2 linked regions of the Homo sapiens genome follow. The protein of the gene in region 1 purifies or fractionates together with the protein of each later gene. This does not show direct contact. Each region holds a gene or a part of one and is shown on either strand. Other genes may lie near its edges.

The links.
Region 2: the proteins of ARHGEF9 (region 1) and CCNT1 purify together in Homo sapiens (affinity purification with mass spectrometry, with the first as the bait; one large-scale study listed by BioGRID). This does not show direct contact.

Annotation. Positions count from the first base shown.
Region 1 is NC_000023.11:63,774,992-63,778,811, forward strand, and holds part of ARHGEF9 (rho guanine nucleotide exchange factor 9), read right to left. Parts: intron 1-3,820. UniProt on the Homo sapiens protein: Acts as a guanine nucleotide exchange factor (GEF) for CDC42. Promotes formation of GPHN clusters.
Region 2 is NC_000012.12:48,692,415-48,696,234, forward strand, and holds part of CCNT1 (cyclin-T1), read right to left. Parts: exon of another isoform or gene 3,749-3,820; coding exon 3,585-3,748; intron 3,416-3,584; coding exon 3,345-3,415; intron 2,023-3,344; coding exon 619-2,022; 3' UTR 1-618. UniProt on the Homo sapiens protein: Regulatory subunit of the cyclin-dependent kinase pair (CDK9/cyclin-T1) complex, also called positive transcription elongation factor B (P-TEFb), which facilitates the transition from abortive to productive elongation by phosphorylating the CTD (C-terminal domain) of the large subunit of RNA polymerase II (RNA Pol II).

The sequences.
Region 1 (3,820 bases):
ACCTCATTAAAAAATGAGCAAAGGACATGAATAGTCATTTCTCAAAAGAAGACATACATGTGGCCAAGAAGCATATGAAAAAATATTCAACATAATTAATCACTAGAGAAATGCAAATCAAAACCACAATGAGATACCATCTCACACCAGTCAGAATGCCTATTATTAAGAAGTCAAAAAATAACAAATGGCTGATGAGGTTGCAGAGAAAAGGCAACACTTATACACTGTTAGTGGGAATGTAAACTAGTTAAGCCACTGTGGAAAGCAGTTTGGAGATTTCTCAAAGAACTTAAAACAGAGATACCATTTCACCTAGCAATCCCATTACTGGGTATATAGCCAAAGGAATATAAATCATTCTACCATAAAGATATATGCACATGTATGTTCGTCACAGCACTATTCACAATAGCGAAGACATAAAATCAACCTAGATGCCCGTCACAGTGGATTGGATAAAGAAAATATGGTACATATACACCATGGAATACTACACAGCCATAAAAACGCGAGAACATGTCCTTTGCGGCAACATGGATGGAGCTGGAGGTCATTATCCTAAGCGAATTAACACAGAAACAGAAAACCAAGTACTGCATGTTCTCACTTACAAGTGTGAGATAAACATTGAGTACACATGGACACAAAGAATGGAGCAACAGACACTGAGGCCTACTTGAGGGTGAAGGATGTGAGGAGGGTGAGGACTGAAAAAATACCTATTGAGTAATATGCTTATTACCTAGGTGAAGAAATAATCTATACATCAAACCCCATGACACACAATTTGCCCATATAACAAACTGGCACACATACTCCTTGAACCTGAAATAAAAATTAGAAGATAAAAATAAAAAATAAAATCAAAAGTACATTTAAATACTGTCTCTTGGAAGCCCTACACAATACCCTGAACCCCTCACCCACCACGTTCTTGCTCCCCTATTTCCTTACATTATCTTCTATATACATTCCTAAAGCATTTAGTCCAGCCTGTCTTTATTTCCCCCCTACTCAATACTAAGCTGCTTGAAGACATAAGCCACATCTTCCTTTGACTCTCCCACACCTCAGCCCAGTACATTTTGTGTGGGGGATAGAGGGAATGCAGGATGAGAAAAACCCCTTTTTCCAAAATCTTAAGCAACAATCCAATGTATAAAGCAAAGGCCCCAGGTGCTCTAGACCAGAGGTGAGAGATCCACACTCCTTTCTGCTCCTTTCTCCCCCTCACCAAGGCACTGCCATGGTAACCCTAGGGTTCAGAGCCAGGAGTCTGCAAACCTTTTCTGTAAAGGGCCAAATACTGAATTTTTTAAGCTTTGGGGGCCATATGGTCTCTGTCACAACTATTCAACTCTGCTTTTGTATCACAAAGGCAGCGATACACAATAAGCAAATGAGTGGGCATGGCTGTGTTCCAATGAAGGTTTATTTTTGGATGCTGAAATTTGAATTTCATTATAATTTCATATACTTGTACCACCAAACACTATTCTTCATTTGATATTTTCCTAACAATTTAAAAATGTAAAAATCATTCTTAGCTTGTTGGCTAGATTTGGCCAGCAGGCTATAGTTTGTTGACCCCTGATCTAAGGAGTTGAGCTAGATTATCCCCAAGGTCATCCAACTTGGACATTATAGCTCAGGCAGTCCAGAAGCAACATGAGCACTGTGCAGAGAGTAAAGCCTGAAACAATAGTGCTGACATGTAAATTCTAGAAAGTAGATAACAAAGTGGACTGTTCCAGGTTAGGAGAATTAAAAAAGAAGGAGATTCAAGTTCTGCTCCTACCTCTCACTTTCCCAAGCTGTACGGCACTTTTAAATGCTAGGTAGTTCATCTACCCTCAGAACTTCAACTGTCATCAATACCTCCCAATCCCTCTGAGCTCAATATCTGATCACCAACTGCCTATTAGATATCTACAATGTAAGATTGTCCAAGCATCTGAAACTCATCAGGGCTGAGACTGTACTACTGTACTAGTCATCTCCTCCCGCTAAATCCTCCAGAAACACTGCTCTATTTTGCACCCCCTATCTCCAGGAAGCATGTCATGTATTAGCCCATTCTCGAACTGCTAATAAAGACATATCTGAGACTGGGCAATTTATAAAGGAAAGAGGTGTAATTGACTCACAGTTCAGCATTGGCTGGGGAGGCCTCAGGAAACTTACAATCACGGCAGAAGGGGAAGCAAACACATCATTATTCACATGGAGGCAGCAAGGAGAAGTGTAGAGAAAAGAGGAGGAAAAGCCCCTAATGAAACCATCAGATCTTGTGAGAACTCAGGCACTATCACAAGAATAGCATGAGGGTAACTGCCCGCATGACTCAATTACCTCCCCAGGTCCCTTCCATGACACATGGGGATTATGGGAACTACAATTAAAGATGAGATTTGGGTGGGGACACAGCCAAACCATAGCATTCCACCACCGGCCCCTCCCAAATCTCATGTCCTCACATTTCAGAACACAATCATGCCCTTCCAACAGTCCCTCAAAGTCTTAATTCACTCCAGCATTAACTCAAAAGTCCAAGTCCAAAGTCTCATCTGAGACAAGGCAAGTCCCTTCTGCCTATGAGCCTGGAAAATAAAAAGCAAGTTAGTTACTTCTTAGATACAATGAAATTATAGACATAAAGATGCCTAGATACAAAGACATTGGGTAAATAAGCCTATTCCAAATGGGATAAATTGGCCAAAAGAAAGGAGTTACAGGTCCCATGCAAGTCCAGAATCCAGTGGAGCAGCCAAATCTTAAAGCTCCAAAATAATCTTCTTTGACGCCATGTCTCACATCAGGTCACTGTGAAACAAGAGGTGGACTCCCACAGGCTTGGGCAACTCTGCCCCTCTGGCTTTGCAGGGTACAGTCCCCCTCCAGGCTGCCTTCATGGCTGGCATTGAGTGCCCATGGCTTTTCCAGGCACACAGTGCAAGCTATTGAATCTATCATTCTGGTGTCCGGAGGACAGTGGCCCTCTTCTCACAACTCCACTAGGCAGTGCCCCAGTGGGGACTCTGTGTGGGAGCTCCAACCCCACATTTCCCTTCCACACTGCCTGAGCAGAAGTTCTCCATGAGGGCTCCACTGCTGCATTGAACTCCTTCCTGGACATCCAGGCATTTCCATACATCCTCTGAAATCTAGGCAGACTTTCTTGGGAAGGTTTGGCCTCAATTCTTGACTTCTGTGTACCCGCAGGCCCAACATCATGTATAACCTGCCACGGCTTGGGGCTTGTACCCTCTGAAGCAATGGCTTGAGCTCTACGTTGGCCCCTTTTAGCCACAGCTGAGATGCAGGTCACCAAGTCCCAAAACCTTACAAAGTAGCAAGGCCCTGGGCTGGCCCATGAAACCATTTTTTCCTCCTAGACCTCCAGGCACTTGATGGGAGGGGCTGCTGGGAAGACCTCTGACATGCCCTGAAGACATTTTCCTCATTGTCTTGGCAATTAACATTTGGCTCCTTGTTACTTATTCAAATTTCTGCAGCCAGCTTCAATTTCTCCCCCAGAAAATGGGTTTTGCTTTTCTATTGCATGGCCAGGGTTGCAAATTTTCCAAACTTGTATGCTCTGCTTCCCTTTTCAACATAAGTTCTAATTCCAAGCCATATCTGTGTGAATTAATAAAACAGAATGCTTTTAAGGGCACCCAAGTCATCTCTTGAATGCTTTGCTGCTTTGAAATTTCTTCCACCAGATATCCTAAATCATCTCTCTCAAGTTCAAAGTTCCACAGATCTCTAGGGCAGGGGCAAAATGTTGCCAGCCTCTTTGCTAAAACATAGAAAG
Region 2 (3,820 bases), on another chromosome or scaffold:
AAAAGTGGCCTGAGCCTATTTCAGAACTCCTAGCCAAAAACCTAGCCTCCCACCCACCCTCACACATTCCCACCCTCCAATCCCACCCACCAGGAGTTACTGCTATGTATCATATACACACAGCAAAATCCCTATCCCCTTCCCAATTATATAAAAAAACTAAACAGATAACTTACTTTCTTTAAATTATTAAGTCTATTAAAAGATTTGACGTTTAAATACTTCCTCTCTTCTGATATATTAAACACCGAAAGGATCCACAATTGTCTGATACAAGAAACCCTCCATTTTTCAGCTCTGGCAAGAAGAGGGAAGATATCAACTCCAATCAACCTAATTAGATGGTGGAGAGGCCAAGAATTCAGAATGTGTCCTTAATCCTTCACAGCTTCAACACCTCTCTAATACCAGTAAAAACTGTAAGAAAATAGTTAAATGCATGAGACAGCAGATATATAGCCAAGGCCTTCTACCACCCTCCTAACTATGTCTCAATATCAATTTATTCCCTAGTCCAAGGATGACATATTTCATAAGTAATTTTCTTAGTCCAAAAAAAAAAAAGAAAAATTATGTGTTTTTTTAAAGAAGTTTTTTTCTCCTCTTCTTTTTCTTTTTTTACTTAGGAAGGGGTGGAAGTGGTGGAGGAGGTTCTGATGGCAGAGGTGGTGGCCGGGGTTTGTCTGTATTGCCAGATCTCGAGGAGATTCCACCAGACCGAGGATTCAGATAGTCACTATAAGGACGAACAAATTCAAATGCAGTGGGCTGAGTGGGCTGAACACCCTGGGCACTGAGCAGGGAGTGAAGCATATTCACAGTGTCTTGATAGTCTATTGTCTGGGTCGTGTTGTGACCATTGGCCCCAGTGGGCCCTTTATCCAGTTTCGAATGAGGGACACGAGTTTTACAGCTGGGCTGTGAAAAGGAAAGGCCACTTGTGTCTGAGCTATGCCCAGGCATCTGACCCATTGTAGGAAGTGAAGGGAAGGAGAAATTTAGGGAAGAGGATTTAGTACTCTTGGCAATCTTGGCTGGATGATCAAACACAGCCCCTCCAGTCTCTTCAGAGGGTCCCCTTTTACGAGTAGAACTGGAAGAGGAAAAAGAACTAGACAAGCTATAGGTTTTATGTGCTAAGTTGCTTGTCTGGCTACTATGTTTTGGATCACCAGGACGTTTGTTCCCAGTACCAACTGGAAGTTGGGAATGAGAGTGCTTGTGTGAGTGGTGATTATGATGATGATGATGATTAGATGGGTGAGTCTTGTGCTTTTCTTTGTGCTCTCGGCTCTTTGTAACACTGTCCTCTACAGAATTGTGCTTATCAGCTGCAGCATGGACTTTTATGCGCATTTTTATCTCCTCTGGTTTTGAAGACGCAGCTTTATCTCCACCTGCCACTGGGATTCTCATTTTGAGAGCTGTTTTGTCAGCCTTTTCCAGAAAAGGCCGCTCGGGGTTTTCTGAACCCTCTATGGGCATTTTTAGAATGACTGAAGAATGGCTATCATGATGAGAAAGGAGATTCTGGGCAGCATATGCATATTGTGACTTCACATTGGCTTCCATGTTCTCCAGTTGCCTCTTCTGGGCAGCCAATTCTTCTGCATGCTTCGCGCGGTATTCTTTCAGTGACACTTTAGCTGATGGCACACTCTTACTATTCTGCTTCTGGGAAATAAATGCATTTGAACCATCCTGTGGTAAGGAATGATCAACTCCTGTAAGTGCTAAATTCTCACTAGTCCGATGACCCTGAGTAGGTTCTAGTTTGAAAGAAGGTTGGGAGGACAGCCAACGCTTGCCCGGCAACATCTCCACACTGGTTAAGTTGCTGGATGACTCTTCGGAGACTGGCAGGGAAGGCACTGCACTTGTGGTAGAAGTTGACATGCTCATTAAACCTGCAATGGTTGTGTCTGAAGAGCTCTGGGAAATCATATTGAGGATTGTCTGCTCTGAAGTCTTTTCATCTGTTCCTCGGTCATCTGCTTTTGTTTTCTTGGCAGCCTCGCATGCCTGCAATGAAGCAAATAGCATCTCTTTACTTAGGTAATTTACTAAATAAAAAAACACTGAGATGAGTAGATTGTACTTGCAGCAACACTGGAAGTTCTGGATAGGCCACAGGCAGGAGGCTATCCTAACATGTAATCCAATAAATATTACCATCAAGAGAAGATTTTAAAACCTTCAATTAAGAGTCACAGCAATCTATCCAAACGTTACAAAGCAATAATAACAACAAAGAATCTATGCTTATCTAAAATTCATACATGAACATCCATGCCTTCGCTTATGATTATAGTTAGTCCATAACTGAGTTCTAGAAATTTTGGTGAGGTTTTATGCTAAAGTAAAAGATGTGCTCTCAAGCCTACTTCTTTTTTGTTGTTACTGTTGTTTTTTGTTTGTTTGTTTGTTTGAGACAGAGTCTCACTTTGTCATCCAGGCTGGAGTGCAGTGGCACAATCTCGGCTCACTGCAACCTAACGTCCCGAGTTCAAGCGATTCTCCTGTCTCAGCCTCCCAAGTAGCTGGAACTACAGGTGTGCATCACCATGCCTGGCTAATTTTTGTATTTTTAGTAGAGACGAGGTTTCACCATGTTGGCCAGGCTGGTCTCGAACTCCTGACCTCAGTTGATCCGCCTGCCTTGGCCTCCCAAAGTGCTGGGACTACAGGCATGAGCCACCATGCCCGGCCTCTCAAGCCTACTTCTAATCTCAGGCTTCTAAGAGGCAAACTCACTCTCTGCCACTCACTCAACTCAGGAGAATGAAATTAACTTTTTCTGTCTGGATTTAGGAGAAAACAATGGAAACATTTTAAAACAAGTTTTATATCTGACAGAAAAAAAAGGAATGATTCCATTATTCCTGAATAAGGCTTTGACAAGTATTTGAAATACAACTTCAGACTACAGCCTATATAAAAACAAAATTCTAAAATCCATTTTAAAAGTAGGTAATGTCAAACACAAAACTGTGATACCGGCTCTAACCTTGTAATTCTCTATCTTGCCTCTACCAGAAGCCAATACTCTAACTCCGAGAAGCCATGTTTTTTCCCTACCAGTTTCCACACAGAAAATACTGAACCAGTGTTACTGCTCAAATGATCATATCACAGGAGTTACACAATGAAAAGCAAATCCTGCTATCCCATAGAGACACTGACTTTTACAACAGTATCCAAGGTATGAAGTAGAAGTCATGATTACTGTGTAACTATAAAAAGGGCAATTCCAAACCTAGGGTACATATTCAATACTGGTATATTCACTGGTGCAGTCAAAAGAAATTGATTTTGTTCCACAAGCTGACAGTAATGATTCTTACCCTCCAATTCCAAATGCGTTTGAGCCTGTTGGGAGTTTTCTCCAAAATCTGTAGAAACTCATGTGTCAGTTCTACAAGTAAAACAGAACATTCAAGAAAGACTGAGAGAAACAGAAGTAATGAAACAAGAATAACCTGAACTACTAACTAACTATTTTCATCTGAATCAAGTCACCTTTGGCCAGCTATGTGACAGATCAACAGCAAGTGCTTTTCAAGGTCCCTTACTCTAAAACTTACCATCTAAAAGTTCCAAGGTCACAGTGGCGTCAACATACTCCCACCAGTGCTTCCCGTCAGTTGAGACTGGGATCTCCCAATTGGACCACTTGCAAGCCAGGTGAATGCAGACACAGGCCACCACAGGAGGTGTGTACTGCAGGCTAAATGTGGTCAAATGCAGGCTGACATCAGAGGGAAGAAAACAGAGAGTGTCATGAGCTCTCAATTCTCAGCCCAAAGCTAAAACTCTCCAT